Linked DNA regions of Homo sapiens: region 2 is linked to region 1. The links come from fine-mapping of genetic effects on gene expression. A gene starts in region 1. The other region holds a variant in brackets. All regions are shown on one strand. Distances are between the middles of the regions.

Region 1 (15,109 bases):
CTGGAAACAGGTACCACTGAAATGACCTGCAAATCAATGGCAGAACTGGATCCGATCCAGGACAACTCTGTTGACACATGATTTAGAACGCTGGCTCCAATTCAGGAGGAGGAGCTGTCCTTTACGCTGGGGGAGGAGCACCGTCCCACGGTTCCATGAATTTGTCCTTCCCAGCACTTCGTTCTTGGCATTCTGTGGCGTCTGTAGAGCACATGACAAGCAATTACAGAGCCAGGGGTCTTCTAATATCCTTGCTATCCCAGGGAGGAGGACACAAGCATGAAAGTGCATCCCTGGACTTTTTGTGGTGAAACTGCAGACTTAGATCCCAAGATAACATCACCAGCCTTCTCAGTAAAACAGAAAACTGGGCCATAGGCTGGAAGGAAAACCAGCAGCTGGGACTAGAGATAATTATGTCCCTCTTCTCTTTGATGCCTGGATTTAGCAGTAGGGTGGACGGGGCCAAAGGAGAGGAATGAATGAAACATTATTATCAATTGCTTCAGATTTAATTCTCACTTGCTGATTTAAAACTGTTTTTAGTGTTGGACATTGATCTAAGACTCTTTCCTCAGGGGAGTTAATATAGCAAAGGGAATTTAAACTTATTTTCAGTCTGTTGAGGAGGATTTTACCCTCTTAAGTTGGGATTCTATGTGAATGACTTCAAAGTGCTGTGCTAGTCCTGGCAGACAGACAGAAGATGGGCGGGGAGAATGCCCACCTTTTACTAATTTATAAGTTTCCCCAGTAGGTGTTCTTCTGATACCCTGTAAGAATAAGACATGAAGGTCTGTAAACATGCAAGGCTGGGGTCCACACAGCCTGATCTGCAGTCAGGACTGCCTCTTATCACAGCCAAGCACTTACTAAAGGTCATCTGTGCCCATTCAAAATCTTGTATGTACACCAGACTTGCTATAATAATCACATATCCTAAATAAGGTGCAAGCTGGCCGGGCGCGGTGGCTCACACCTGTAATCCCAGCACTTTGGGAGGCCGAGGTGGGTGGATCACTTGGGTCAGAAGTTCGGGACCAGCCTGGCCAACATGGCGATACCCCATCCCTACAAAAATACAAAAATCAGCCGAGCATTATGGTGTGTACCTGTAGTCCCGGCTACGGCGGAGGCTGAGGCGGAATTGCTTGAACCCAGGAGGTGGAGGTCGCAGTGAGCCAAGATCGCGCCATTGCACTTAAGCCTGGGCGATAGAGCGAGACTCCGTCTCAAAAAAAGATTAAAAAATAAGGTGCAAGCTGATGGAGTAAAAGTGCTGAGGAATAAGCTCTTCAAATCATTCAATGATTTTAAGAAAATTTAGTTGAATGTTTTGGAAAGACTTCATAAAGGTGAGTAATATTTACTATCAAATGGGATGGTAAAGACCATGAAAAAAAAAAAAAAAAGTAAAATCCCTGAAGGATTCTGCATTCAGATGACTCCACAATGTAAACCCAAAATCCAAACTGAAATCGGAGGACCCAGACAGTGCATTATTAATGTGGCATAGGCAAAACAGACAAGAAATTTCAACTGGCTGATCCAGACACCAAGAGAAGACCTGAGCCCTGTGTCAAAAGATGGGTGAACAAATTCACATTTATATAGTTTCGGTTAAAGTAAAATCTTGGAAATCTATGTGTATCATTTAAATGATTTTCTGATATAATGACTTTTTAAAACTGATATATTGTTACTTAGTCTTGATTTAAGCGATAAGAAGGCTTCTTAGGCCGAATTTATTAATTCATAAATGACTATACTTATTGGATACATGGAATTCCTAAGATTCAGTACACCACAAGTTTGCTTTATTTAATCCTTTTCTACTCTACTCTCAACCAACCACCCTGAAATCTGTTTGCCAGTTTACCAATGTCAGCACTCTGTTGAATTACTTCATTTGTAAAATCTCTTCTTTACCTCCTTCGCCTTCCCTGACTGCCATTACTTTCTCGATCAGCCCTCACTTTTTATTCAACGAGTAAACTGGAAAGATCTCTGAACCCGATGTACTAAGCCAGGTCACCCTGCCCGGGATGGCTGGCGGGAAGGCAGGTCAGTTTGGGCTGGTGGAGAGCATGCAGTTTATTCCTGGCATGGAGTGGATTTCAGGAAGAAGATGAGGCAGGGACAGCAGATGACAAATCTCCGCTTGCCTGTGGCAAGAGTTCTGTGTGTACATTTAAACATGGGTGTGTGCAATTTTCAGAGGATCCACTTCTGCCCAGTTTGGTGCAGGGGAGCTGGGTAGTTGCCGACTTTTCCTATCTTGATCCCTACTCAGTGTAACAATTTATCTGTACAACTGATTCCATCACCAGGATCTTTAGACCCCTCTGGTCATTCAGCCAATCACAAGCACTCATCCACAGGACACCGCCGATGATGCCATTTACTGAGCAGTTACTATGTGCTTGGCCCTAGTGAGTACCGGGTTAGCTTGTGTGAACCCCATGGCAACCCGTGAGACAGGTACCATCATACTCCAAGTTGTGGATGACAAAAAACTCTCCAAGCAGCTAAACAATATGGCTTAGGTCTCACAGTGAGCAGGGAGCTGGGATTTGTGCCCAGGAGGCCCGATCAGAGCCTACCTCCTTAACCATTAGGCCAAACTGCCTCCACATGCAGAACACTGCCCTGCACTGGGGACCTGGGGGAGGGTAACAGTGTCTGCCCTTGAGCTGCTCCCAAACCTTCCTTGAATAGCCTTGGCACAAAATGCATTTCTTGGGGACTCGCTGACATGGTGTTTGGATTTCTATCGGGTCCCTGATTGGGCTCAGCATGGAGCCTGATGAAATATGAAAAAAGCAAAGAAAATTAAGGGACTATACATGGAAGTTGTTCGAGTTTGTATTTTGCTGAAGCCCATTCTATCTGCATGCTTACAGAAAGTTTCCTAACTGGAGAACCCAGAAAGCTCAAAACCTGTCTCAAATTCCTCCTCACACTCAGTTGGGAGCCATCTGGGCAGGCAGGGAACCTGGCAGAGGTGGCAGGAGCATGGCACCTGGAGACAGGAAAGGAATTCTTGGACAGCAAACTCTTTGGCAAGGCAACAGGGGCGAGACAGAGGATTCTCAGGTAGCCCCAAGGTACCACAGTATAATGGAATACTTATTGCAAAGCCTGGGCCCCAGGAAGTGAGAAAAGCCTCCCAGGCCCATCTTTGCCAAAAGATTCTTACAAGAGGACTTGCCTATGCCCACCCAACTCAACCCACACCCACAATCTCAGAGCAGGCCTCATCAGTGGGCGCCAACGCTTTCACCTTGCCGAGGTACAGAACCTAAGCTGGGGATCTGATGTCCCTAAACCTCAGAGACTTGACCTTGGCCACACTGAATCTACGTCTTGATCCCCCAGTCTTGATTTCCAGCCTTCCCTGGGTCAATCAAACCAGCTGCCCCGTCATATGGCAGAGCAGTCCAGAAACCCTGGATTGGGGGAAGAGGTTTAAGGACCTTAGGAAGAGATATTTGCTCTTTGTTTTATAAACAGAGCACCAATGTAGAGTGAAATGCCTTGCTCTCTGTGTCGGGGCCAGATAAGAAATTGAGAGCTTTAACTCCACATCTCCCTAACCTTATTCTGGGTCATGCTCCGATTACAGACTCTTGTAAAAATTCATTTGTGAGACAGTGGTTTTGGAATCAATATTCTACTGGGTCAATGTTATAGATCATATCTGGGTTCCCAGACTAGTCCACAATGGCCAAGTAAACCCACATGTGGCTGAGAGGGGAGGGAACTAGTGTCAGGCAACCAGCTCCACCACCCACTGGCTCTGTGACCTTTAGCAAGTTACTAACCCTCTCTGTGCTTCAGTTTCCCCATCACGGAGATAATAACAGCACCTGCTACATAGCGGAAGTGTTGTGAGGATTAAATGAGATAATCTTAGCAAGCACTTAGAATAGGGCCTCCTAAAAGACACTCAATGAATGTAATTAAGATAGCAGTGCCAGTGTCAACCCCAGCAGTGGTGACATTGGGACTGGGTCATATTTTGATGTAGGAGACTGTCCTGTGCCTTCCTTGTAGGATGTTTAACAGCATTCCTGGCCTCTACCCACAAGATGTCAGTAGCACCCTCCCCGAGTTGTGAAAACAAAAACATCTCTCTAGACATCTCAGTGGCCCCCAGTTGAGAACCATGGTTTTACAGGAAAACAGCTGAGAGTCCCTGCTGGAACATGAGGACTCCTCTCCCTGCTGCAGCCCAGCTGGTGAGGCTGGGGTCTTCTCTTCCCGTCACCTGCTGAGGTGCCCCCCAAACGCCAGCTCCATGTCACTAGTGGAAGCACCTAACTCCTGGGCATGGCAAGTTAGGAGTGGCCAGGGGGGTGTTTCTGGGAGTGTGAGGGGGCTTTGGGGGTCTCTGAACACGGTGATGAGGAAAGTGGTGGTGGAGGAAAGAGCAGAGTCAAACGCAGTTTCCCACCTGCTTCCCACTGTATTTCCCCATTTATCCTTCATGGATAAAATCCATTTGGTATGGACCGAATACCTCTTGTATGTCTAGCACTGTATTAGGCCCCTACGGCTGTTTTTATTTGTTTTTGAGTGATTCTTTTTCAAGGAGGGAGTAAGGAAGATGCTAAATAAATACATCAATAGAAGGCAAGGTCCAGTTGGAAAATTATCACATGTCCAATTGGAAAAATAACACGTGTTCGTACATATAGCCACAGAGCTACTGAAACCACACACATAAATGCTGAGGGAAAGTGGAATAAAACAGTTTCTTTAAATTTTCAACAAATGGACTGTAACAACAGATGTTAAAAAGGCAGAAGGAAAACCACAATCTTATCCCATCTCCAGGCTGGCACCGACCTCCAAGGGCATGAGGGTCAAAGGGCACGTTTAATAGAAAGGCCACTTTTTCCAACCGGAATAAATCTAACCTTTCCTCAATCAAAGCGATTCTAAGTTTTCTAACAATTTATGGGCAGTATCCATTTCTTTTGTTCCTGTCGGAGGAGCAATGCCTGATATTAGAAACCACTTAAAAGTCACGCCCTTCCAGCAGGAACAGTCATGGACTGTCACTCATCCAAAACCCAGCAAAGCCAACAAGCCCCTTCCCCAAATCGTCCAAAGGTGAACCCAAGAGCCAAGCCAGGTTATTGCTATATAAACATCTGTTAGAGAAGCAAACTTGGCCAAGGAATGTATGAGCTTCAAGAGTCACTCCGGACCTGCGTAGCAGGGGTGGGGGCAGGGGATACACTTATCTGTTTATCCATTAATTTGTTTACGTAGAGGGAGGATTTGGAGATGCTTATACAGTAAATATAAGCAGCTTATACAGTAATTATAATACAATGCTTATACAGTAAATACAATGCTTATACAGTAAATATAAGCAGCCATCACAAAACACAAAATGACACCCCAGAATCAACCGCGGTAGGAAAGACATTTCCCTGTCTCCTGTAGGATGGGTCAGTTAAGGGGCCGAGGGGGATCAGATAGAACTCAAATTGGTCCTGCTGAGCCTGGAGCCTGAGCACGCAGAGGGGTGAGCTAGGCAGTCGCTGTCGGAGCCCCCATCATCCCTTCCAGCCTGGACCATTCTGAGACGGAGGTTTGGAGTTACAGGTGTGTGAGCGCCAGAGGGTGAGAGGGGTCACTCGCTCGGAATGTAAGAGCTCCCGCCTGCTGGGAATGGGGAGGAGTCGTCGATGGCCCCAGGATCCGTGCCCAGACATTTCCAGAGGCGCACCGGCTGGTTCAGCACCCCACCGTCATCCGCGCAAAAGCTGCATCCCTCGAGGTCCTGGAGGGAAGCCATTTCCTTAAAGCGCGCGCAGAGCCAGGATAGAGTTTCCTACGAAGGACCGTCCCCCTGAGGTTCCTCCATTAACAGCGCCCCCGGCCTTGCCCACCGCAGCGGCCCCACCAAAGCGCCAACACATTTCAAAATGGAGCGAAATCGCAGAAGCGCGGAGTGCGCTTTGTTCCCAGCATTGGGCTAAATGCGCTCATCCCCACCGGGCTCCCTTTCCTCCAAAGGCAGGAGGTGACATCTCTGCTCGCGAGATGGCAATACGTAGCCGTGGCCGCGGGCTCCCCTTTTCCGGGGCCACCCCGAGACCCTCGCTCCATCTGGAAGGGGAACCCCGCGCCCAGCTCTGTCTGGGGGCGAGGGAGGAGAGACGATGCTTGAATCGATCCCTGAGCCGCTCTGCAACCCCTCGCGGCGGGCCCAGCCATGCGAGGAGCCTCGCAGTACCCAGGCTCCAGCCCTCTACGCCACCGTCAAGGAGGGTCGGCCTGGTCCCGGGCGGGCAGCCAAGCCATTCCCCAGAAATTCAGATCAACCTGGGCGACCCGCGTGGAGGATTCAGCTCCTAGATGCTCTTCCGTCTCAGAAGTGCGCCCCCCGCACCAGTTTTCAGCGATAGAATTAACCAGAAAACCGTGCGTACCAGGTTCATCACAGGAGGGCGAGGCATGGATTCGTTGGCCAGGAGTTCCCCCTGCCGCCCCAGACTCGGTTTTGGGGGCGCGGTGAACTTGGACACGGGTGAAATTTATTTAAGATAAATAATATTAATCAGTACGGACATAATATTAATAAAAATACACCCAGGGCCGCCTATCTGCGTGTCTGCGGCCTCCAGGGGCCAATCAGAAACAGCCTCAGGCGCGGGGGTTCGGGGCTTCCTCCCGTGTCCTCCAGGAGGCCGACTGGGCGCGGCTCCCCCTACCCCAGGGTCCCCAATCTCCGCAGGGAAGGGGTGAGGCCAGCCCCAAGATCCCCTCTCCGGACACCTGTGGTTTCCATGGCAATCCCCCCTCTGCGCCCAGTCCAGTGGGCTCAGAAAGATGGGTGTGGCCGAAGCACCAGTAACCTTATGCCCCTTCCTCACATTCTCCGGCCAGGCGAAGCAACAGGGCGTAAAGCCGGAGAGGCCCCGCCAGGGCTCCCCACCCATCCCCGGATGGGTAGCCAGCGTCCCTCGCTGGGCAACCTGGTGTGGCGTGGCCCTCAGGACACTTGGGGTGTAGGGAGGGGCGAGATCCCTCTGCCGCCGCCCGCAGCGCGCACGGAGACTCGAATCCCATCCCTTCAGAAGCTTCCCGGCGCCGGCAGACTCCGAGACGAGGCTGCGCGCGGTCACGCCCGTTCCATGCGTGCCGGGGGTCGGGGGGTTGACTCGAGTTCATCGAACCCAGCAAGCCTCGAGATCCAACAATGGGCTCGGAAATGAGGAGCGAAAAAGGAAAGAGAGGCGCATGGGCGTAGGGGGGAGGTTGACTGAACACCCTCAGAATAAAAGCCAGAAACCAGGGCTGGGAGCGCAGATCACGTAACCTCTACAGACAAAGCAAAGAGCCCCCGAAGAAGGTGCTGGGCGAACGCCCCCAGTGCTCACGCCCGCAGCAGCAAAACGCCAAGATTTCAGCGCTGATTGTCCCCCTCCCTTTAATGCCAGGCCCCGCCCTGTCCTATGAAGCCCGGCCACCCGGTTTGGCATGGCACCGTAAAGACGTGACACGCCGAAAAAAGATGGCACCTCGCGTTCCGAGGGGGAAAAAAAGGGGGGCTGGGGGCGGGAGTGGGAGGAGGCACAGCCTATCCTCCCCCTTCCTCGCCCACCAGGGTCCACACCCACTGCCGCAGTGAGGGGCGAGCCCTGCGCGCCAGCCCCGCGCCTCCGGCAGGGAGCGCACACGCCGGGCGCCCTGCGCTCCGAGCGCTGAGAAAGAAATCCGCCCCGAGATGCACCTGCAGCCCCGCGCCCATCCGTGCGTGGCTGCGGCTGTGCGTGCCCGCGAACGGGGACCAGCGGCCGCCGAGTCCGTCCACATCGCCAGGCCAGGTGAACCCTGCCTTTGCGAGCGTGCACAGTGGGATCCGCGCACTGTTCTCAGGCACGGCGCTGCTCGCGTCTCTGTGCCAGGCGTGCGCAGGGGGAAGGGCAACTAAAGTGACAGCGCGTGGACCCCTCCCCATCTCCTCGATTTCTCCCAGCCCCCAAATGTCCCCTACGGGTTTCTGAAGGAGGAAAAGGGGAGGGGGCCGGCCCCCGCCTAAAATCAGGGGCAGTGAAGGCCCTGTCGGAATCACTGCTCGGGAGGTGCAGGGAGGGGCGTGCAGGGAGTCATCTTTTCTAGAACCCGATCCACGTCTTTCTTAGAGCTGATGGCGAACAGCGGCAGGGACAGCGGATTTCAGATTCGGTTTCGGGGGTCGTTATCGGACCCCTCCACACACACACACACACACACACACACACACACACACACACACGCCCATTGCGGCAAAAGGCTGCAGTCGAGAGTGAAGGGCAGCCCCCTCCCCCAAGTCACCGCCGCCGCGCCCCACCCTGCCGGCACAGCCTCCACCTGGGGTCTGCGCGAATCTGGTGGTGAAGACCCTCCAGCACACACACACGCGCGCACTCACGCGTGCGTGCATCCCTTGCTCAGGTCCCTTTCCAGGCCGCCCTGGCCCCAGCCCCCGAGCAGGGGAGGCAGGGAGGGGCCCTGCGGTGGCCCCGACCGATGCCCGGCGCACGAAGCCCCAGTCTGCGGAGAGGGAGGGCGAGGGGCGGCGGCGCAGGGGTGCACAGAGGCGGACGGCGAGGCAGATTTCGGAGCCGCGGCGCTTACCTGATAGTCGACAGAGGCGAGGACGGGAGAGGACAGCGGAGGAGGAGAAGGTGGCTGTGGTGGCGGCGGCAGAAGGTGGGCGGTGGCAGCGGCGCTGCTGTTGGTGCCGGAGCTGGTGGGTGGCGGTGACTGCGAGGGCGCGCGCCGGCGAAGAGGGCGCGTTCCTGAGGCCGGCGGGCGGCGCAGGCGCGAGCAGCGGGAACGCGAGCCTCCCCAGGGGAGGGGGCGGGCAGCGCGGCCTCCGCGGGAGCCTTCTCCTCCGGCCACTAGTGGGCGCGCGCGAGCGCCCTGCCGCTCGGCCGTCCGGCGTCTCCCGGCTCGTTCCTCTCGGCGCTGCCCTTTCGCGGTCCCCCTCCCGCTACGCCTCAGGCCGCGGCGCTGACCGCAGCGCGCACGCGCGTTCCGTGGCGCACGCGCTTTCTCCACCTCCTGTAGTTGGAGTCTTTGTGTCGTTGCGGGGGTGGGTGTCCTCCTTCGGGCCATGCGGGGTCGGGGCAAGGCCAGTGGCTCCGCCGCTGGGTCCGCTGCCCTTTACTTTCAGTCAGCCTGGGGCGGTGTCCTCTCCTACAGAAGTCCTGAGCGGCCTTCCACGTGGCCGGCCCTCGAGTCCGTCCGCCCCGACCCTTCGTAGTCCCGAAACCGCCCCCCTGGCTAAGGTCTCTTTCCCCCAGGCTGCTTCCTTTCTCCTTGCTTTTTTCCCACCTTTTTTGTTACTGACCAAGGTGAATCCTTTCCTTAACAAATCGGCTTAAAGCAAGCTAACTCAGTTACAATACAGTAGAACTGTACTTAAAAAAAAAGAAACGTGAATCTAACCGTTACGTCAGAAAAAAAAATCTTAAATTAGACGAATTTCAAACAGTGCTTAACACATCGCAGAGCATTTGCAGTTATTTGTATCACGTCTTTTGAAACACCTTTATGCTGTAAATAGAGCTTGAAGTCTGAATGTTTAAGGGCCAGCTAGAGATTGTCCCCTGGAAGACGCACCTCAGCCTGAAACTGACCAGTGGTCCTCATTCTGCTGGTCGCCCAGGCCCCAGGCTTCGGCCTTAGCTTGGATTTTTCATTTCCCCAACATCAAGTTTAAGCCCAAGCAGTGGGATGATTTCTATGTAGGGGGGTTTAGGGCAGCCATCTCCTCCTAGGGAGATGGGAAGTTGTCTTGAAGCTCCAATTTGCATAGCTCTTATATTCTTTTTAAAAAATCAACATATGTTATAGATTAATAGAAAAAGCAAGTAAAATGCTTTATTCACACAGTTTCTGGAACTGACCTTTTTCTCCTTTTTTTTTTTAAATGCATATTAACTTTATTTTTAAACAGAGGGGCATATACCCAAAGAAGTAGGAGTGAGAACCACCATGGGGGCTTGCTCAAAGCAATCTGCCCTAGCCTTCTGACTACAGAATGTCTCATGAGCCAATGGCCTGGAGATGGAGCTGCCCCTTGATGGTGTACACCTTAGAAAAGTCAGTGGAATTGACCTTTTTTTGGAGACAAGGTCTTGCTCAGGCTGGAGTGCAGTGGCACAATCGTAGCTCACGGCAAGCTTGAACTCCTGGGGCTCAAGCAATCTTCCCACCTCAGCCTTCTGAGTTGCTGGGACTACAGGTGGGCACCACCACACCTGGCTAACTTTTTTTTTTTTTTTTTTTTAGAGAGGAGGTCTTGCAGTGTTGCCCAGGCTGCTTTCTAACTCCCACCTCAGCCTCCCAAAGCGTTGGGATTACAGGCATGAGCCACTGCACTCAGCCTGGAATTGACTTTTTGTTGTTGTTGTTCTAACTGCCACCATCCTAGTTCAAGACCTCTATCTTGGTTCTGGACATGTAGGGACCTTAGTGATCTCCTTGCTCTCCAGTTTCTCCCTATATCAGCCCACCCTGCAACCCCTAGTTAGATCAGTATTCAGAAGTGATCATTTTATTTATTTATTTTTGGTTTTTTGTGTGTGTTTGTTTTGTTTTTTTGAGATGGAGTCTCGCTCTGTTGCCCAGGCTGGAGTGCAGTGGCACGATCTCGGCTCACTGCAACCTGTTTCCCGGGTTCAAGCGATTTTCCTGTCTCAGCCTCCCAGCTACTGGGATTACAGGCATATGCCACCACTCCCGGCTAATTTTTGTATTTTTAGTAGGACGGGATTTCACCATGTTGGCCAGGCTGGTCTCGATCTCCTGACCTCAGGTGACCCAAGCTCCTCAGCCTCCCAAAGTGCTGGGATTACAGGTGTGAGCCACCACACCTGGCCCAGATCATTTTAATTATGTCACTCTCTTGCTCAAAAATATGTAAAAGCTTCTAACTGCCTCCTAAATTAAGTTCAACCCCTTAGTTTAGCTTTCAAGTGTCCCCCCAATGCCCCAACCCCCCATCATCTGAGCCCTTGTCCTCCCATTTTCTTTCCCACCTACTCTGTAGCCAGCTGAAGTGGCTTGACTAGAACTCTTTTTCCACCTCTGTAATTCTGAGGTTTTCCTTTGCCTACAAAGGTCCTTGTTCTTTCTTCACCCACCAGTAGTCTACCTAACCTTCAAACTCTAGCTCAAATTTTACCAAAGCCTTCCCTAATCACCCCAACTGGAAGGGACATTTCCAGTCTCTAGAAGGAGTTCAGCAAAATTACTCTTCTTCTTTCTGAAAGTGGGAAGGGGGTGCAGTCAATATCCGTCTTGCAGCATTGAAATGTGGTTATTGTCCCCAATAGTGTCCCCTTTTTTTGGTGTGGGGATTATACATACTTGTCCATTACCATTTACATGATGTAGACATTCCAAATAGGCGCTTCAAGAGCATTGCAAGGTTCTACCACTTTTACTCTTCCTTTCCGCCACCAGAATGGCGTGGCTCCAGAGAGCTGTTCCTTCAGCTTAGATCTCAGGAAGGAAAAACTCGAGGAAGTACATGTCACATGAGCAAGAAATAAACATTTGGGGCTGGGCGCAGTGGCTCATGCCTGTAATCCCAGCACTTTGGGAGGCTGAGGTGGGTGGATCGCTTGAGGTCAGGAGTTCAAGGCCAGCCTGAGCAACATGGTGAAATCCCATCTCTACTAAAATCACAAAAATTAGCCAGATGTGGTGGCGCGTGCCTGTGTTCCCAGCTACTCGAGAGACTGAGGCAGGAGAATCGCTTGAACCCAGGAGGCAGAGGCTGCAGTGAGCCGAGATTGCACCATTGCACTCCAGCCTGTTACAGAGCAAGACTTGGTGTCAAAAAAAAAAAAGAAATAAGCATTTGTTGTGCAAGCCACCGAGATTTGAGGAGTTGTTACCACAGCGTCCTGTATCCTGATTGATACAGGAATTAAATGAGGTGTGTGTGTGTGTGTGTATAAAGTTTCTTACACAACATCTGACAAATAGTCATTAAACTATCATACTATTATAAATACTATACTATTATACTATTATAAATACTAGTTATTTCATTATCATCTTTGTAATAATGCTTTTGCTACACATTATTTTATTTCTATACGTAAAATAAACTGTAGCAGTCAAATCAACACTCGTCTACATTCAAATTTCACATTTTTCCCCCTCTAAGATAACAGTATAATTGAGAACTGACAGGGACCTAATGACAGTATGGTCCCCTCACACTGAATGGTCACATTTGCCTAAATTGAAATAACGTATGCTAGAAACAATCTTAAGCAGATCTGTCATTTTAACTATATGTGATGTAGAGTTGAATGTTCATTCCAGATAATTTAGTCAATGTAGGTAACTAATGGCTCACACTAATTCAGGCCAAGAAAATGCATTCCCTCTCTTTCTTCCTGTCCCTTTCTCTTGCTGAAAGAGAAATCTCATGGCCGCATATGTTATACAATCATGCCCACTTATGTAGGATCACAGAAGGCAGAATAGCAGAGAAGAAAGAAAACTGGAGAGTTGGGTCCTGATCCTAGCCATCTTGTATGACCTTAGACAAATTCATTACCTTCTCTGGGTTTGCAATTCCTTTATTTAATGGTGTTCCAGATGCGGTTAGGACTGAGATCAATGTATCTATAGAATTTGGAGGCTCTGCCACTAAATCTATTCACAAAGCAAGCTAAACTGTTGTAATAAATAGACCCCAAAACACAATGGTTCAAACCAACTCTTCGAGCAGTCTTGGGTGAGTGATCCAGGTTGGTAGCCAGCCTTCTCCGTGGAAGGTTTGGGACTCAAGCTCCTTCCATTTGCAGCCTACACCACCCCTGAGGGACTTGTTGTTTGCTTGCTTGAGGCAGGGTCATCATTTAGAGTCTCCAGTTGGGAGGAAGAGAAGGAGCTTATGGAGGAAACACACTGGCTGTCTTAGAGGCTGGAAGTGGCATCTGATCATGTTCCACTGTTAGAACTTAGTCACATGGCCATCCCTAAGCGCAAGGTATACCAATGTATGTAGGAGAGTTGTGGGCCCAGGAAGAAGAGGAGAAAGGATTTGGGTGGAACCTAGGCTGTGCCATATATACTTTTTATGTGGGGGTGGGGGGATGTGGTAAAAAGAACCTGGGAAAAGAACCTGAACTTGTCTATCATGAGATTCAGACATATGTGAATAGGCTATGATGTGGGAGGTGGGGAGAGAGGTAGAGAACTAGCAGAGAAGGAGAAAAACCAGATTTTCAATTAAATGCATGAGAGAGAAGTCATCATTGGATACTTCTGAATCAGAGAGTATTTAACCTTTTTTATATCGTGGCACCCTATGGCAATATGATAAAAGCCCTGTCTCAGAAGAATATTTTCAAATGCATAAAATAAGATCTATAAGATTATAAAGGAAACTCTTATGTACAGTTATCAAAATATTTAAATGTCTGTGATATCGTATGTGATGGACATGGAGATGGAGGTGTGCCGCCCAGATTCCCCTATAGGGAAGGACTTGTTCCAGCCACTGGGAGTGCTGTTGGCAGACAGGCTTCAGCCCTCTGTCCCTTCAGGGATTGTCTCGGCTGCAAGAGTCACCTTGTTGCAGGGAGACCACGTTGAGTGACTGACAGAGGTGGGGGTATAAAGACCCAGTCATGTTGGCCCCACACTGGGAAAGTCTGATGGCCCTATTTAACTCCAGAGCTCCCCATGCCAGCCAGGCAGTTGTTGGGTTGAATCACAACTCAACTTCCTCCTCTGCTCAGTCCTTCCTTCCCCACTGCCTCTGGTATTAATTGTGCATTCTAATAAACATTCTGGGCTGGGTGTGGTGGCTCACGCCTGTAATCCCAGCACTTTGGGAGGCAGAGGTAGGTGGATCACTGGAGGTCAGGAGTTTGGGAGCAGCCTAGCCAACATGGTAAAACCCCATTTCTACTAAAAACACAAAAATTAGCTGGGTGTGGTGGCGCACACTTGTAGTCCCAGCTACTCAGGAGGTGGAGGCAGGGGAATCACTTAAACCCAGGAGGTGGAGGTTGCAGGGAGCTGAGATCATGCCACTGCACTTCTACCTGGGCAACAGAGTGAGACTCCGTCTCAAAAAAGCCCAAACACACACACAAACAACAACAGCAACAACAACAAAAACAAAACAACATTCTGTATCCTGAACTCTCTGCCTCTTGGAGAACTCAACCCAGAATAGTTGGTTGTTAGGAGTGGTCTAGGAAAGCAGATGATAAGGTGAGTTTTAGAGCTGGATCACTTGCTCCCTGGCTGTCAGTGAGGACCTTATCACTTGTAGTAGTTGGAGCACAGATAGTCCCTGACACAAAGTGGCAGTCCAATTGTTAAAGTGGTAAATTGAGATGGTATGCTGGTGGAAGAAAGTGCACTAGCCAGTGTGATATATCAGATGTTTGAGAAACATATGGAAAATAGTAGCTGAAGACAGCATAACTGGGTGACTACTGAACTTAGGTTCAACTGAATAATCATGCTCCAAAGAAGGTTAAGCTTCTGATATGGTTTGGCTGTGTCCCCACCCAAATCTCATCTTGAGTTGGAGTTCGCATAATCCCCACATGTCGTGGGAGGGACCTGGTGGGAGGTAATTGAATCATGGGGGCAGTTACCTCCATGGTGTTCTCGTGATAGTGAGTTCTCATGAGATCTGGTGGTTTTGTAAGGGGCTTACCCCGCTTTGCTCTTCCTGTCACCATGTGAGAAAGGATGGTTTGCTTTCTCTTCTGCCATGATTGTAAGTTTCCTAACACTTCCCCAGACATGCTGAACTGTGAGTCAATTAAACCTTTTTCCTTTATAAATTACCCAATCTTTGGTATGTCTTTATTAGCAGCATGAGAAAGGACGAATGCAGCTTCCAAGCAAGGTAGGCCTGCTATATCAAGGTCAGAGCCCTTGTTGGGAAAGGATGGGACCCTGACATGTGAAACAGGGACATCTGAGTTGATGCCCCTGAAAATCTTGGATTTCCAGATTCTCTTGAATGCTCTGAGCCTGCAGAAGTGCCCTTCCCTGGCTCCTACTCGAAAATGCCAAGGCTTTTTCCCACAGTCAACAAGGAACCCAC
Region 2 (15,109 bases), 41 kb after region 1:
AACACTGGAACAATGCTATTAATTAAACTATGGACTTAATTCAGATGTCACTACTTTTTTGACTAGTGTTCTGGTTATTTTAAATTTTACTTCCTTAATGACTAGGAAGATAGAACATCTTTTCATATTTTTTGGACCATCTGTATTTTTTATGTAAAATGCCTATTCAAATTCTTTGCCCATCATTTTCTCTGTTGGATTATTTGTTTTTCTAACGATTGGTAGGGGTTCTTTTCGAACCTTTCCAAGCTTGCACAGCGAATTAGTAGCAGATCTGGGAAGATAACCCAAGTCTAACCTATTTACTTATTCCTGCCATGACGCTCTGTCCTCAATTCTCCTTAACTCTCAGCTGCTTCTCTCTTCCCTGGGCCCATGTATAGCAGTCCCCAGCTGGACCATTCTTATCAGCATCTGTCAGAGAAGCACAGCAGGCCAGGCCTGCTTACTCTTCATTTCCCTCATTGTTGCTGAGCTAATGTTCAGGATGGATCTTGTCTGGACATAGCTTGCTTTCTGGAAAGTCTCATCCTCCTGGCACTGAGACGGGCAGCACAGAATGCTGGCTGCGGGGCCCAAGAATGCGCCATTTGGCTGCTCGTTCCCTTCCTAATTGCCATCCTGGCAACTGTAAAATCTCCTGCACTAGGAGAACGGAAGCTGCAGAAGGGAGTTTGTGTGTGTGTCAGGATCACTGGGCGCCCTGCAAGACCCATCCATCCAGGATGGGATGCTCTCCAGGATGCTCCGGCTCCCCGTGGGCGTTATCTCATCCTCTGGGCATAGCTCCAGAACCTGAAAGGAGCTAGTGGGCAGGGGTAGGCACTGCCATAGTGGGGTAGAAATATGGCACTCCTCTTGGCAGCTCTGCTTCCATTGAGCCATGGGTTCCTGGAGAAGAGGGGCCATGCCTTATTTCTCAGATGTTCTTCTGGCTCTGGCTGTAGTATGGGGATGACCAGAAACCTTGTCCTTTGTAGTTCTGATTAGGATGGAGGTGGAGTGGAGACACCAATTGTCCCTAGTCTGGTCCTGTGTGTTTGATGGGGAGGGTGGTGTAAGGGTTTGAATAGTGTGCCTCAACCACCAAATAGATGTCCACAGGAAGCTGTGGATGTGACCTTATTTGGAAAATGGGTCTTGCAGATGTAATTAGTGAAGAGCTTCAAAATGAGATCATCCTGGATCTCCAGGCAGGCCCTAAATCCAGTGACAAGTGCACCATGAGAGAAAGGCAGGGGGAGATTTGAAATGCGCAAAGGTGCGGAGGAGGTCACATATCAGTGGAGGTGGAAATTGGAGCGATGTTGCCACAAGCCAAGGAGTGCCTAAAGTCACCAGAGGTGGGGAGAGGAAACACAGGACTCCTCCCAGAGCCTTTATGGGGAGTACAGCCCTGCTGGGCACACCTAAACTTCAGACTTCTGTGCTCCAGATGGGGAGAAAAGAAATGTCTGTTGTCTTAAGCCACCTGGTTTGTGGAAATTTGTTATACCAACCGTGGGGCATGAGCGCAGGTAGGAACCAACCAGGGCACTGAAACTCATGATTCTTGAAAGGATCCAACCAGTCAACAGCCCCAGTTCTTCACTAGCTCACCCTCCACAATCCCCTTAGAGACCTCACCCAAAACTACTGTGGGAGATGGATTTGAGGGTCTCCATCTCCTCACTTGGTGCCCTGCGATCATTAAACTCTTTCTCCCTGTCAACGCTGCTGTCTCAGTTACTGGGTCTGTTAGCGCACAGTGGGCATACAAACCTGTTGTTCCTACAACACTTCCTACCCGTCACCCATGCTTCTGAGCTGTGCTGGCCACCAGGCAGCCATGTGGGAGCTGTGGGCAGACTGGAGAGGTGAGCTCCCAATAAAGACAAGAAGAGCAAGTGTTAGATCCATGAGAGAACAAAGGTCATTTGATGACAAGTCAAGCAGAAACCAGAAGTCCAGAAACTGAGGTCAGCCAAGACATGGCAGCAAAAATCAAAAAGGGCCCAGACTTGCCTGAGAATCCTGCCTGCCACATGTGCCTATTCTTTATTATCTATTGTTATGGCTGCTTAAGTGCTATGACAGCAGAGTTGAGGCCACCAAGTCTAAAGTATTTACCATCTAGCCCTTTAGAGGAAAAGCTTGCCAATCCCTGCTTTAGGGCAATAGTTCTCAAACTTTGGTGCCCATCTGAGTCACCTGGAGGGCTGTGAAAACAAAGGACTGGGCCCCACCCCCAGAGTTTCAGATTCAGCAGGTCTAAGATAGGGCTTCATAATCTGCATTTTTTTGTTTGTTTGTTTCTTTTGTTTTTGAGACAGAGTGTCACTCTGTTGCCAAGGCTGGAATGCAGTGGTGTGATCTTGGCTCACTGTAACCTCTGCCGCCCAGGTTCAAGTGATTCTCCTGCCTCAGCCTCCCGAGTAGCTGGGATTACAGGCACACGCCACCATGCCAGGCTGATTTTTTGTATTTTTAGTAGAGACGGGGTTTCACCATGTTGGCCAGGCTGGTCTTGAACTCCTGACCTCAGGTGATCCACCCGCCTCGCCCTCCGGAAGTGCTGGGGTTACAGGCATGCGCCGCCGCACCCGGCCCATAATCTGCATTTCTAACAAGTTGCCCAGTGATGCAGAGGCTGCTGGATCAGGGACCACTCTCGGAGAACCGCAGCTCCACAGCTGCACTTCTTACACTTTATTATTTTTGTTTTCACTTATTTATTTATTTTTTGAGACAGAGTCTCAGTCGCCCAGGGTAGAGTGCAGTGGCACAATCTCGGCTTACTACAACCTCTGCCTCCTGGGTTCAAGTGATTCTCCTGCCTCAGCCTTTTGAGTAGCTGGAATTACAGGCACGCACCACCACTCCTGGCTAATTTTTGTATTTTTAGTAGAGACAGGGTTTTGCCACGTTATCCAGGCTGGTCTCGAACTCCTGACCTCAAGTGATCCTCCTGCCTTGGCCCAAAGTGCTGGGATTACAGGGCTGAGCCACTGCACCCGGCCTGCTTCTTACACTTTAATCTGCCCATGATTCACCCAGGGATCCTGATAAAATTCAGACTCTGATCCGGGAGAAGCAATCTCCAGGAAGAACAACCTTGTGATCCAGTGGCCCCTGCCTTCCTCACCCTCCCTCTCCAGCCACAGCTGATTGGACCTGGGGTGGGCACCTGAGTCAGGGACCCATGGGCTCACCCACAGTCAGTGACAGGATGCCAAACAAATAGGGTCCCTAGAGAGTGTGGAAGCCAGGTAGATTCTCTCGAGAGAGTCTGAAATGTGGCTGCATAGACACCGTTGCCTGTTGTTGGTGACCCCTGGGCTGAGAGGCAATGACGTGGAGTTGGGGGCCAGTGGCATGACGAGACAAGGGCAAAATGGGTGAGCAGAGGCAGCCAGCCCAGGGAGGGGAGAAGAGGAAGTGGAGGCCCAGAGATTATGAAGCTCGGCGAGGCAGAAAGCTTTCTAATTCCCAGTTCCCATGAGCCCTGACTGGGCTGTTTGCCCTTCTGTTCTGAGAAATTCCTGTGTCCCTTCAAATATGCTTCTCTTTTGGCTTAAGCTACTTTGAGCAGTTTCTTATTCTTCAAAGCCGAAAGAGTCTTAAAGAGAATGCATCCATGACCCTCTCCCGCCACTCTCACATCTTGTTTATGTTCATCTCCAGGACCTTGGACAGGGCCCAGCACAGGGGCCCTGGAATGTGGACTGTCTCAGTGGATTCTTGTTTATAGGAATTAGAGGAAGGTGGAAGAAGCTCATTCCAGGTGAGCAGAGGCACGGAGCAAGGGTGAGCGTGTGAGAAGAGCCATGTGAACAGGATGTATAGGGGCCAGTGGAGGGAAGGCCAGTCAGGAGGGAAGGCTGGATGCAGATGGCCTTAAACACCAGGCTGAGGAGTTGGGGTTGGTTTGACAAATGGTAGGGAGGTATCAGAAGTCCTGCAGCTGGATGGACATGACAAAGAACAGTTGTGCCCTTTTCTTTAACAAGGATTCAGATGGCCTGGGTGACAGATGACATCTTGGGACTGAAATGAACAAATAATAAACCTATGCATGGAACTCTTACAAGAAAACATCAGGCAAAAGCTTACCAACATCGAATTTGGCAATGATTTCTTAGATATGACACCAAAGGCACAGACAACAGACTTCATAAAAAAGAAAAACTAGACTTCATAAAAGTTAAAAAAATTTTGTTAATCCTAAGACACTATCAACAGAGTAAAAAGGCAACCCACAGTATGGAGGAAAATATTTGCAAATTATATATCTGATAAAGGATTAATATTTAGAATATATAGAGAACTTCTAAAACTCAACAACTAAAAGACAAACAACCTGATTCAAAAAAGGACAAAGGTTTTGAAAATACATTTCTCCATTTAAAAAGACAAATGGCCAATAAGCACATGGAAAAATGAGCATTAGAAAAATGCCAATCAAAACTATAATGAGATATTACCTCATATCTATTAAGAAGACTGCTATTAAAAAAAAAAAACAAAAAAACAATACAAAAAAACCCCAGAAAATTGGCTGGACATGGTGGCTTATGCCTATAATCCCAGCAGTTTTGGAGGCTGAGGGAGATGGATCACCTGAGGTCAGGAGTTTGAGACCAGCCTGGCCAACATGGTGAAACCTTGTCTCTACTAAAAACACAAAAATTAGCCAGGCGTGGTGGTGCACACCTGTAACCACAACTACTTGGGAGGCTGAGGCAGGAGAATGGCTTGGACCCAGGAGGTGGAAGTTGCATGAGCCGAGATCGTGCCACTGTACTCTAACCTGGGCGACAAGAGCGAAACTCTGTCTCAAAACAAACAAACAAACAAACAACAACAACAAAAACCCAAAACCAGAAAATAGGTATTGATGAAGATGTAGAGAAATTGGAACACATGTGCACTATTGGTGGGAATGTAAAATGCTATAGTCTCTATGGAAACAGTATGGCAATCTCTTAAAAAATTAAACAGAGGCTGGGCACCGTGGCTTACACCTGTAATCCCAGCACTTTGAGAGGCTGAGGCAGGAGGATCGATTGAGCTCAGGAGCTCACAACCAGCCTGAGCAACATAGTGAGACCGCATCTCCACTAAAAAAAAAAAAAAAAAAAATTAGCCATGCATAGTGGTGTGCACCTGTAGTTCCAGCTACTTGGGGGACTGAAGTGGGAGGATTGCTTGAGCCCAGGAAGTCAAGGCTACAGTGAGCAGTGATCGTGCCACTGCACTCCAGCCTGGATTACTGAGCAAGACCCTGTCTCAAACAAACAAACAAACAAACACCATAAAGCCAGGGGCTCATGCCTGTAATCCCCGCTACTTGGGAGGTTGAGGGAGGATTGCTTGAGCCCAGGAGTTCGAGACCACCCTGAGCAATGCAGCAAGACCCCATTCCCAATAAATACATACATACATACATACATACATAAATAAATACATACATACATACATAAACAAAAAATTGAACATAGAATTACCATGTGATTCAGAAATTGCACTTCTGGGTATATAACCCAAAGAACTAAAAACAGGGCCTCAGAGATATTGAAAGTAATGGCAAAAACCACAATAAATTTTGCACTATCTAATATTTGCACACCAATGTTTATAGTAACCCAAGTTTCCACCAACAGAGGAATGAATGGCTAGGCAAAATGTGGTGCATACACACAGTGAATGTTACTCATCCTTAAAAAGGAAAGGAATCCTGCAGTATGCTGCCACATGGATGAGCCTTAAGGCCATTATGCTAAATGAAATGAGTCAGTCACAAAAAGACAAATTCTGTGTGATTCCACTTATATGAGGCACTTAGGGTAGTCAAAATCATAGAGACAGGAAGTAGAATGGTGGTTGCCAGAGGCTGGGGAGGAAGGCATGAGAGTTATTGTTTGTGGGTATGGAATTTCGTTTGACAAGATGAAGAGTTCTAGAAATGGATGGTGGTGCTAGTTGCACAACATTGTAAGTGTATTCAATAATATTGCTGAGCTGTACACTTTGATAAATTTTGTTATGTGTATTTTACCACAATTAAAAAAATAAAAACAAAACCAAACCCTTATGCGTGGGGAAAACAAATGACTGGATGGAAATAAAACAAAAGCTTATAGTAATGTGGATTTTTTTTTCTACTTTCCTGTGCTTTCCAATTTTCCTCTAGAGTGCAATCAATAACAGTGGAAAGAAGTCCCTGGAGCCCAGTGCAGTGGCTTGAACTGAGAATGCACTCACTGGCTGTTGCAGCCAAGACTCCAGTTCTCGCCTCTCTTTCCCTGACTCCCCTGTGCCCACCTTTCCCCTGCAGGAAAGTATACCCGGCGGGCCAGGGGGCTTTTGTGGTTGGGTTATGTCTTCATCTTGTCTGCTCTGTGAGCCATTTACTTCTCAGGCACAGCTCTGGGCGCAAGGGCAGCCTGTGCCACAGATGTCTGTTGAACCCTGGATTCGCGTCTGTGGCTGCTGTATAGATGATCACACGCCTGATGGCTTCAAACGACAGAAATATACCCTCTCACGGCTCTGGGGGCCAGAAGTCTGGAATCAGGATCATTGGGCTGAAATCAAGGGGTCAGGGCTGTGTTCCCTCTGGAAGCTCTAGGGGGAATTCATTCCTTACCCCTTCCAGCTCGTGCTGGCTGCTGGCAGTCCTTGGCTTGTGGCCACATCACTCCAATCTGTCTCCATCACCACATTGCCTTCTCCACTTCCATGTGTGTAATCCTGCTGTCTCCTCTGTCTCTCTCTCTAGCTCTTTTTTTTTTTTTTTTTGAGACAGAGCTTCGCTCTGTTGCCCAGGCTGGAGTGCAGTGGCGCAATCTCGGCTCGCTGCAACCTCCACCTCCCGGGTTCAAGCAGTTCTCCTACCTCAGCCTCCCAAGCAGCTGGGATTACAGGCACCCACCACCATGCTCGGTTAATTTTTGTATTTTTAGTAGAGACAGGGTTACACCATGTTGTCCAAGCTGGTCTCGAACTCCTGACCTCAGGTGATCCACTTGCCTCGGCTTTCCAAAGTGCTGGGATTACAAGCATAAGCCACTGCACCCAGTCCTCTCTCTCTCTTTTTTTTTTTTATTGAGATGGAGTCTCACTCCGTCACCAAGGCCGGAGTGCGGTGGTGCAATCTCCCCTCACTGCAACCTCCGCCTCTGGGATTCAAGCTTTCTCTCCTGCCTCAGCCTCCCAAGTAGCTGGGATTACAGACATGTGCCACCATGCCTGGCTAATTTTTGTGTTTTTAATAGAGACAGGGTTTCGCTGTGTTGGCCAGTCTGGTCTCAAACTCCTGACCTCAATTGATCCACCTGCCTTGGGCTCCAAAGTGCTGGGATTACAGGCGTGAGCCACTGCGCCCAGCTTCTCCTCTGTCTCTGTCTCTCTCTCTCTCCCTCTCTCTCTCATAAGGGCCCATGTGCTTGCGTTTAGGGCCCGCTAGGACGATAGAGGATTATCTCCCCATCTCAGGATCCTTCGCTTAGTCACTTCCGCAAAGTCCTTTCTCCTTTGCTCCCTTTCATGGAAGGTAATGATCACAGGTTCCAAATTTTTGGGGGAGGACATTATTCAATGTGTCACAACTGGCTTTAAGGATTAAGCAAGGTAGGTGGAGACCAGACTCCCTTGGCTCATGCTCTGGGGCTGTCCCGGGGGATAGCCGGGAAGAGAACCTGGGCTGTGATGGGTGAGGGTTCTCAGGTGTGGCCCCTCCTGCCTGAGTTCACTACAGTGTCTGGGTCAAGTCAGGAACTGCAGGCAGGGCCAAGCCTGGGTCCAGGCTGGACGAGGGACTGAGGGTTTTGCTCAGAGTTCTTTTCTCTCTGGACCCAGGGGCCTCCTGCTTTAAGAAGACCCAGTATGTGGGGGAATTTGGGGGCTTCATGAAGCAGCCTCTGAAAGGCAAACCAGAAAGCGTCTCCTGTTTACGAAGGGTTTCTGCATTAGTTTCCAGGTTCTCGGTTGCCTTGGGCTTGTCACTGGGTCTGCTGTCTGACCTTGGGCAGGCTGCTTTCCCTCTCTGTCCTCAGTTCTGGATGATCACTGGAGGCTCTGCCAACACCATTATTCAGACCTCACTGCAATCCCCCAAACCCCACCAATCTTTGCTGCCATTCAAGTCTTTGGGAGCCTGGGGAATACTACTTAAAGGCATTTCTCAGAACAAGGTCTCAGGTCAGGCTCAGTGGCTCACACCTGTAATCCCAACACTTTGGGAGGCCAAGGCGGGAGGATTGTTTGAGCCTAGGAGACCAGTCTGGGCAACATGGCAAAACCCGATCTCTACAAAAAATACACAAAGATTAGCAGGGCATGGTGGCGCATGCCTGTAGTTCCAGCTACTGGGGAGGCTGAGGTGGGAGGATCACCTGAGCCTGGAAGGTTGAGGCTGCAGTGGGCTGTGATCATGCCACTGCACACCAGCCTTGGTGACAGAGCAAGATCCTGTCTCAAAAAACAAACCAAACCAAGCCAAACCAAAACAAAAACAAAAACTCAGAACGTCTCAGATTTTAGCAGCCCAAGGTTCTCTCAGCAGCAGCCCCAGCTGTCTGCTTCCCTTCCAGGTCCCGTTCCAGGGGCAAGGACTGGGTCTGGACCTGGGGGTGGGGGTGGGGAGGGGCCATATGGGGAGTCTCCTCATCTTGCGTACAAATAGTCCAGGAACCGGGGGGCCTGAGGACACTTATTCATGGTGGTCTGATTCTATGGGGTGGGGTAAGTGTCAGGGCATGGACCGTCTTTAGGCATTAAGGACATTCAGTGATGCTGTTTTGGGCTATTTCATTCAATAAAATATCAAAATAACCTCCTCCAGGGCACCTCACCCTTCTAACAACCCAGATTCTAAAGCGTTAACCTTGAGCCCAATAGGGGCTTCAGAACTCTGCTGATTGCTAGTTTATTAAACATATTTTAAATATCATTACTGATTATAATTATCCCCAAATTCCATGAGCCCCTGCTTGCTCTTATCTTCCTGGCCAGTAGGTGGCAGCACAGGAGCATTCAAGGTTCAGGGTTGCAGGAAAAAAGGCGCA[A/G]AACGTTGGTGGTTCAGTTAAACTGCAGGACCCAGTACGTGGGGGAATTTGGGAAACCTTTTCTTGGCTCTGCGGTGGTGCCCTGCTTACCACCAGGCACCCACCCACACACCACATCCCAGTGAGCGTGGGCAGGGGAGACCAAGGGAAGAGGATGACTCCACTTCCGGGAGCTCATTTGGGGAAGACGGCATTTGGGGGTATGTCAGGTGCTGTCCTGGAAAGTTTTTCCCCAAACCTGGGTCACACGTAATGAGATAATGCATTTATCTGCCCTGCTGTAAGTGCTTAGCCAGTGTTAGCTGTTCATACACATACTTCACTTCATTTAATCCTTACAACGAACCATTAGGTGAGTCTTAGCAGCCCATTTTACAGATGAGAAAATTGAAGCTCAGAGGGCTGGCTTCTGTTGTCCAGCATCACATGACAAGAGAAAGCAATGTGGGGCTTTGAACCCAGGTCTCAAAGTCCAGCTGTGTTCTCCTTCTAGCTGGCAAGCGGATTGATGCTGAACCTTTATCAAGCAACACACACAGATACTTCTCAAGGAGAATGTGGGGCTATACCTCCCAGGGCACAGGAGTGGGTAGACCCAGAGTTTTCCTGGGGGAGGTGTGATTTCAGAGGAACAAAATCAGAGACCAGGGTGTGTGGAGGGAGGGGCTGTTGAGGATGAGAGCTGGTCCCAGCTGCTGGGCTGGGAGGCAGGAGACCAGACTTGCATTTCGTTTCTGCTGTCCCATTGCTGTGTGACCTTGGGCAGGTCCTGGCCCTCTCTGGGCTTTCCTTTCCTCATCTGTGGATGAGATCATCTCACAGGTCCTTGCTGGTCCCCACTGTCCCAGAAATCCAGAAGCTCCAGTACTAAACCCTCTCATGAACAAAAGAAAACCAAGCCCATGCTCATAAAGCTGGTGCTGGGATTACCAAGGTCACAGACAGAAATGCCAGTTGGCCTGTGTAAAACAGCTCGACCCTGAGGCTGGGCCACCTGGGGCCCTGGGGGTGGCCTTGAGGAGGCTATTCCTGCCCTGGTCTCATCTGAGGGTTCACCTATCACAGGTGAGGCTGTCCAGGAAGCAGGTGCTGTGGTGGTTAGTGGTGGAGCCAGGAGGAAGCAGCTTGCAGCACGGGGAGCCGGCAGCCTGGGATGCAGCCCTGTGCTGCCTCTGCCAGCCCATGGGATCAAAGCAAAGACCACTCTGGGTGGAGACAGCCAGGGCCTGGGCCCCTGTCTTGCTCAGCCAGTAACCGGCCCTTTGTGCCCCCTCCCCTGAAGAGCACGAGTGAGCCGGGCTAGAAAGCTGAGGTGCCCCCAGGAGGCTGTCCTCGAACCACACTCCTCAGAGCAGCTGGGCAGCGAGTTCTGTCTTGAAGGGGGATCTGTTCCACCAGGAAAGGGGTAGGCCTGCAGGGAGGGACCTTGACCACCCTGTCCTTTGGGATGGGAAATCCAGGGATCAGCACCCCCACTCCTGTAAGCCCAGGAAAGGCCTGGTGGGGAAAGGCTGGATCTGTAGGGAACCACACGCAGCAGGTCAGAGCCCAGAGGTGTGTGTGTGTGTGTGCACGTGTTGGGTGTGAACAGGTGTGCACGGGGCATGTGCATGTGTTCAGTACAGGTATATGTGTGTGGATGTGCGCATGGGTGTATATGTGTGCAGGTGTGGGGTGTGGGGGTGTGTGAAGTGTGCAGCATGGGTATGTGCCCATGTGTATATGTATGTATGCAAATGTGTGTGCATGCGTGTGTGTATATGCCCATGCGCAGTATCTTGTGTCCCTCTGGCATTCAGGCAGGGGCTTCCAGCTTTGGGCACCGCTGGCAGGTGGCAGCGTGGTCTGGACACCTGGAGTTGGCCCTGTCCTCTGGGAAGAGGACTGGCAGAGTAAGAGGAGGCCTCTGGGCAGGAGTAGGGACATTGGGCCATCAGAGGGCACAGCAGGGGCAGCAGGGCAAGATCTAGGAGACTTGACTCTGTGCCGGGCACTGGGCTCAGCTCCTCACCCATATGGCTTATTACTTACCACAACCCCTGGGGCAGGAGGTGTTATTACGCCCACTTTATGGTAAGGAGACTTTTGCATCCTCAAAGTCACACAGCTAGTAAGGGGGACATTCATCCAGCCAGTGAATTCATTCAACAGATGTTTTATTGAGCACCTACTATGTGCCAGGTCCAGTGCATGATGAACAAAACAGGACAAAGTCTGCCTCAGAGGACATGCTAGAGAGTGGGGTGGGGGTTGAGAAATGTGGCGGTTAAGTGAAGATTGTTGGTTGGTAAAGTTGCTTCAATTTCTCCTGCCCCAGACCGGGATTGGCCAGGGGAGCAAGGTGGAGGTTGAGCCTCCGGGTGTGGTCAGGTGTACCCAGGGCTCAGGGAGGGGAGCCTGCAGGGCCCCCAGCTGAATGTGTATGTCAGGATGGAAGGCAGGACCTGCCTTGGGCCCCCGGCACCTTGAAGCCTTGGTCTCCCTCCTCCCCATCTCCTCCTGGCCCAGCCAAGACAAGAGGCTGAAGCCAAACTCTAAAGGTGTTCACCCTGGGGTGGGGGTGGGGGTCCCTCAAAATGGTTGATGCCTGGTCCCACCCCAGACCTGTCAACTCAGAATCGGTGGGGCCAGGAATCCAGATTTTTGGCAGGTGCCCCAATGATTCTGACCTGCAGCCGTGCTTGGGTGCCTCTTTCTAAACCCTCAAGCTGCCTCTAGACCCAGAGTCCTTGCCCAGCCCCATCTGTGAAATGGGCAGAGTTGCTGCAGAGTATTCTTGGGAGGAAGAAGAAAGGTCCTGCCCATCACCTGCCTCCAGCCCCGTCTCCACACTTGTTTCCTGAGCAGGGCAGAAGAGCTTGGAGGATGTAGGGGTGTGTGGGGGGACTCACATAGTTTTTCCAGTTCACACGTAGAAGGCAGCTGTCCCTGTGTCTTAGCTTGGGCTCCCTGGGAATGAACCTCAGGAGCATGCTGGGTGGGAGGTGCTGGGCAGTGGTCTCAGGGGAGATGCTTGCGAGGGAGTGAGGTCTGCAGGAAGGTGAGGATGAAGCTGGGCCTCGGGGCCGGTTGGCTGGGGCCCCAGTGAGCCCTCGGGAGCTCTGGAGCTGGGGTGTCCTTCATAGAGGTCCCCGACATTGGTCAGTCCTGGCTGTGGCCACACTAGGGAACCAGCAGGGGGAGGGGGTGGTGAAACTTAGGTGACTAGGACGAATTCCCAGTGAGAAGCAGAGCTGAGAGCTACCTGGGCACTGTGATGCCACTGCACCCTGGGCTGCTGTCCACCCCAGGCCTGGCCTTGGGACCCTGTGAGCACCTCAGTTCTGCTGCCCAAGCACAGTGCAGCAAGCTGGGGGTTGGGGAAGAGGGATGGAGGCAGCAGATCCAGGCCGTGTGGGCCCTCACCTCCCCATCAGGTCTGGATGCCGGGAAGGGGGAGGCCTCCTGACCCAGACCCTCCCTGAATCCCCTCTCCTTGGAGGTAGGCATTGGCCTCCCTGCAGGCCTGCGGAGCTCCAGGCCTGCATCCTCAGAGCCCTCAGACTGGATTTCTGGGAAAGAGAAGTTCCTTTATCCTGACCTCCTGCTTTGGGGGATGTGGGGGCCAGGGAGCCCAGGAGGCCTCGGCTCTGTCCAGCCCTTCCCATCGGGCCTGGCAGAGGGTGCAGCTGCCCTCGGCAGGCCCCGTGACGCAGGCCAGCAGCAGGGAGGCTGCCCAGGCTGGGGCTGAGCCAGGGCCTGCGGAGGGCCCTCTGTCCAGGCCAGATGGCCACTGCTCCGGTGGGAGGGGCTGCCAACACCTCCGCAGTGGCCTGGCCGGGTTCTCCAAGCTTCCCTTGTCTAGCGGGCCTTCAGCTGCTGTGTACCGAGAGGCTGCACTTCTTCCCTGGCAAGCGGGGCTTTGAGAGGCCCACCACCTGCACTGCCTCCCTGGGACTCTCTCCCCACTCCAGGGCCCAGCCAGGCCTGCCAAGTCTCACGTCAACACTGACCAAGGTCCTGCAGGAAGCCTGTGAGGTGGCCTGGGCAGTGGGGCCTTCCCTCATAGCATTCCCTCCTCTGCAGTTCAGGCTGGTCAACTCCTCATTCATTCATTCATTCATTCATCCATCCGTTCATTCCTCCAGCAAATACATCAAGCACCTGTAACACTCCAGGGGCTGTTCTGAGCCCTGAAATTACACAGATGAACAAGATGGGCAAGGCCCCTGCCCTTCCAAAGCTGGCCCTCTACCGGGGAAGATCGGAAAACTAAAGGTGCCTGGTCGTGTGATTGAGACAGGGATGCTTTAGGAAAGGCTGCGAAGAGGAGCAGCCAGCCAGGCCAAGTTCACGGGGCGTGGTAAGGAAGGGGCAGAAAGAGAGTTCCAAGAAGAGGAAAAAGCATGGGGGGTGTGGTGGGTCTGGCGTGTGCTTGTGGCGGTAGGGGTTTGGAGGGGTGGAAGAGGGCCGTTGGGCTGGGACCTCAAGGTCTTGTAGGAGCTGGGTTTGAGTCTGTGAGGCTTTCACTAGGGGAGCAATATAAACATAGCTCACGTGCAGGGGGCTCTTCGGACAGGCAGGGCATTGTGCCAATCACCTGACATAGGCCAACTCGTTCAAACTTCCTAAGAACCAGATGGTAGGTCCTATTATCCCATTTCACACACAAGAAAACAGAGGCACTGAATGGATAAGTCATTTGCTCAGTGAGATACTCCAAGTCAGTGGTAGGGCTGGGATTTGTGGTAGGCAGCCTGGCTGTAGAACCCTAACCACTGAACCACACCGCCTCTTGGGATACACTTTCCTCCCCTCCAAAAACACCTCCTCCAGGAAGCCTTCTCACCCCAGAGTTTGTCTGCTCTGATTAAGCAACACATCAGCACCCTACATGGCCTAAAAGCCTGTAGAGTCCTTAGGAGGTCATCTCGTCCATGCCCCTGCCTCCAGATGGAAATGGTATTATAAGTCTCATTTTGCAGATGAGACTACAGAGACCCAACGAGGCTTGAACATTACTTAGAGTCAGTGAGGGAGGCCTTGGTCTCCGGAATTCTTCCACCCTGGGCCCAACCTCTCCAACCCCTCCCGACCTCTTTGAGACAATTCTAAGTTTGTTTCTTGTCTGCCCACCCCTCCCCCTCCCCCAGCTAGACAGAGGCCTTCCCTGTGCCCACCACATGGCGATGCACATAGTAGGGGCATACTCAATGCCTGAAGATGGAATGGGTGGTGCATACAGGAACTTGCTGGGCTTGGTGCTGCTGCCTGGGATTCTTGAACAGAGACGTTTTGCAGAATGGATGTGAGCTGAGGAGTAAAGGATGCTTCGGAATCTTCTAGTGAGTCAGGGAGCCAGGCTGGAGTGTTTCTGTCTGGAGAGGGAAGGGCATCCCAGCTGGAGGGAACAGCATATGCAGAGAGAGCGGGTGGGGAGGACAAGGAGTTCTGTTTGACCTGAGCATGGAGAGAAGATGGGCAATGAGCCTAGGGTGGGTGGCAGGGATGGGATGGGGGCTGTGTGCCAGGCTAAGAAGCTGCCACTCTGGATTGGGAAGGGGTTGGGCAAGCAGGCAGAGGGGAGTAGCTGCCCAGTGAGCCCTGGATGCAAATCCCGACCTTGCCGCTTGAACTTGTGCAAGTCATAGGCCCTCTTGGAGCCTCAGTTTCCCCCCTTCATTATTTGGGGGTGGTGCCCACTCCTAAGGACCCTTCGAGCCCTGCACACTCTTATTATGTGGTTGCTGCTCTCTTGCACTCCCGACAAACAGAGAGACTCCTTGGGTAGATATGAAATCTCTTTGATACCCTGATTTCTTGTTGCCATGCATGGCTTTGCTCTGCAATGTTCCACCAGCCCTTTGAGAGGCGTGTGTCCCAGTGCCTCCAGTTCACAAGGGAGCCTGGGTCGACATGCTCTTTCTTACTTTCAAACCCTTCCTCTTGTGGAGTCCCGCCCAGGGCAGGCCAGTCTCGTGGGCCTGGGCCTGGGCATGGACATGGCCCAGCTCTGAGGGCGGGGGCATCAGGGGCATGAGTGGGATCAGCATGGCCATTGGCATCAGTGGCATCAGCTCCTC

Which allele goes with the higher level. Alleles are on the strand shown, and positions count from the first base shown. SD is a standard deviation of normalised expression in the study named.
For the expression in testis of the gene that starts at base 7,814 in region 1, G is the high allele of the variant in region 2 and A is the other (moderate effect, 0.47 SD a copy in GTEx).

What was found.
Region 2: its variant is fine-mapped to the expression of MAPT-AS1 in testis (GTEx, PIP above 0.99).

What each region holds. Positions count from the first base shown.
Region 1 is chr17:45,888,218-45,903,326 of GRCh38, reverse strand. It overlaps MAPT-AS1 (MAPT antisense RNA 1), which reads left to right and starts at 7,814. Exons shown (of 2, transcript NR_024559.1): 1 at 7,814-7,847. It overlaps MAPT (microtubule associated protein tau), which reads right to left and starts at 8,773. Exons shown (of 13, transcript NM_001377265.1): 1 at 8,641-8,773. It overlaps MAPT-IT1 (MAPT intronic transcript 1), which reads right to left and starts at 7,544. Exons shown (of 1, transcript NR_024560.1): 1 at 4,529-7,544. RefSeq lists enhancers at 5,288-6,172, 7,059-7,944, 7,945-8,830.
Region 2 is chr17:45,846,773-45,861,881 of GRCh38, reverse strand. All of the region lies in intron 1 of MAPT-AS1 (MAPT antisense RNA 1), which reads left to right. SPPL2C (signal peptide peptidase like 2C) reads right to left here. Exons shown (of 1, transcript NM_175882.3): 1 at 14,815-15,109. The coding sequence ends at 14,921. Among named protein-coding and RNA genes, the nearest start is that of SPPL2C, 9.4 kb to the right of the region's middle. The variant A/G (reference allele first, on the strand shown) is at 9,048.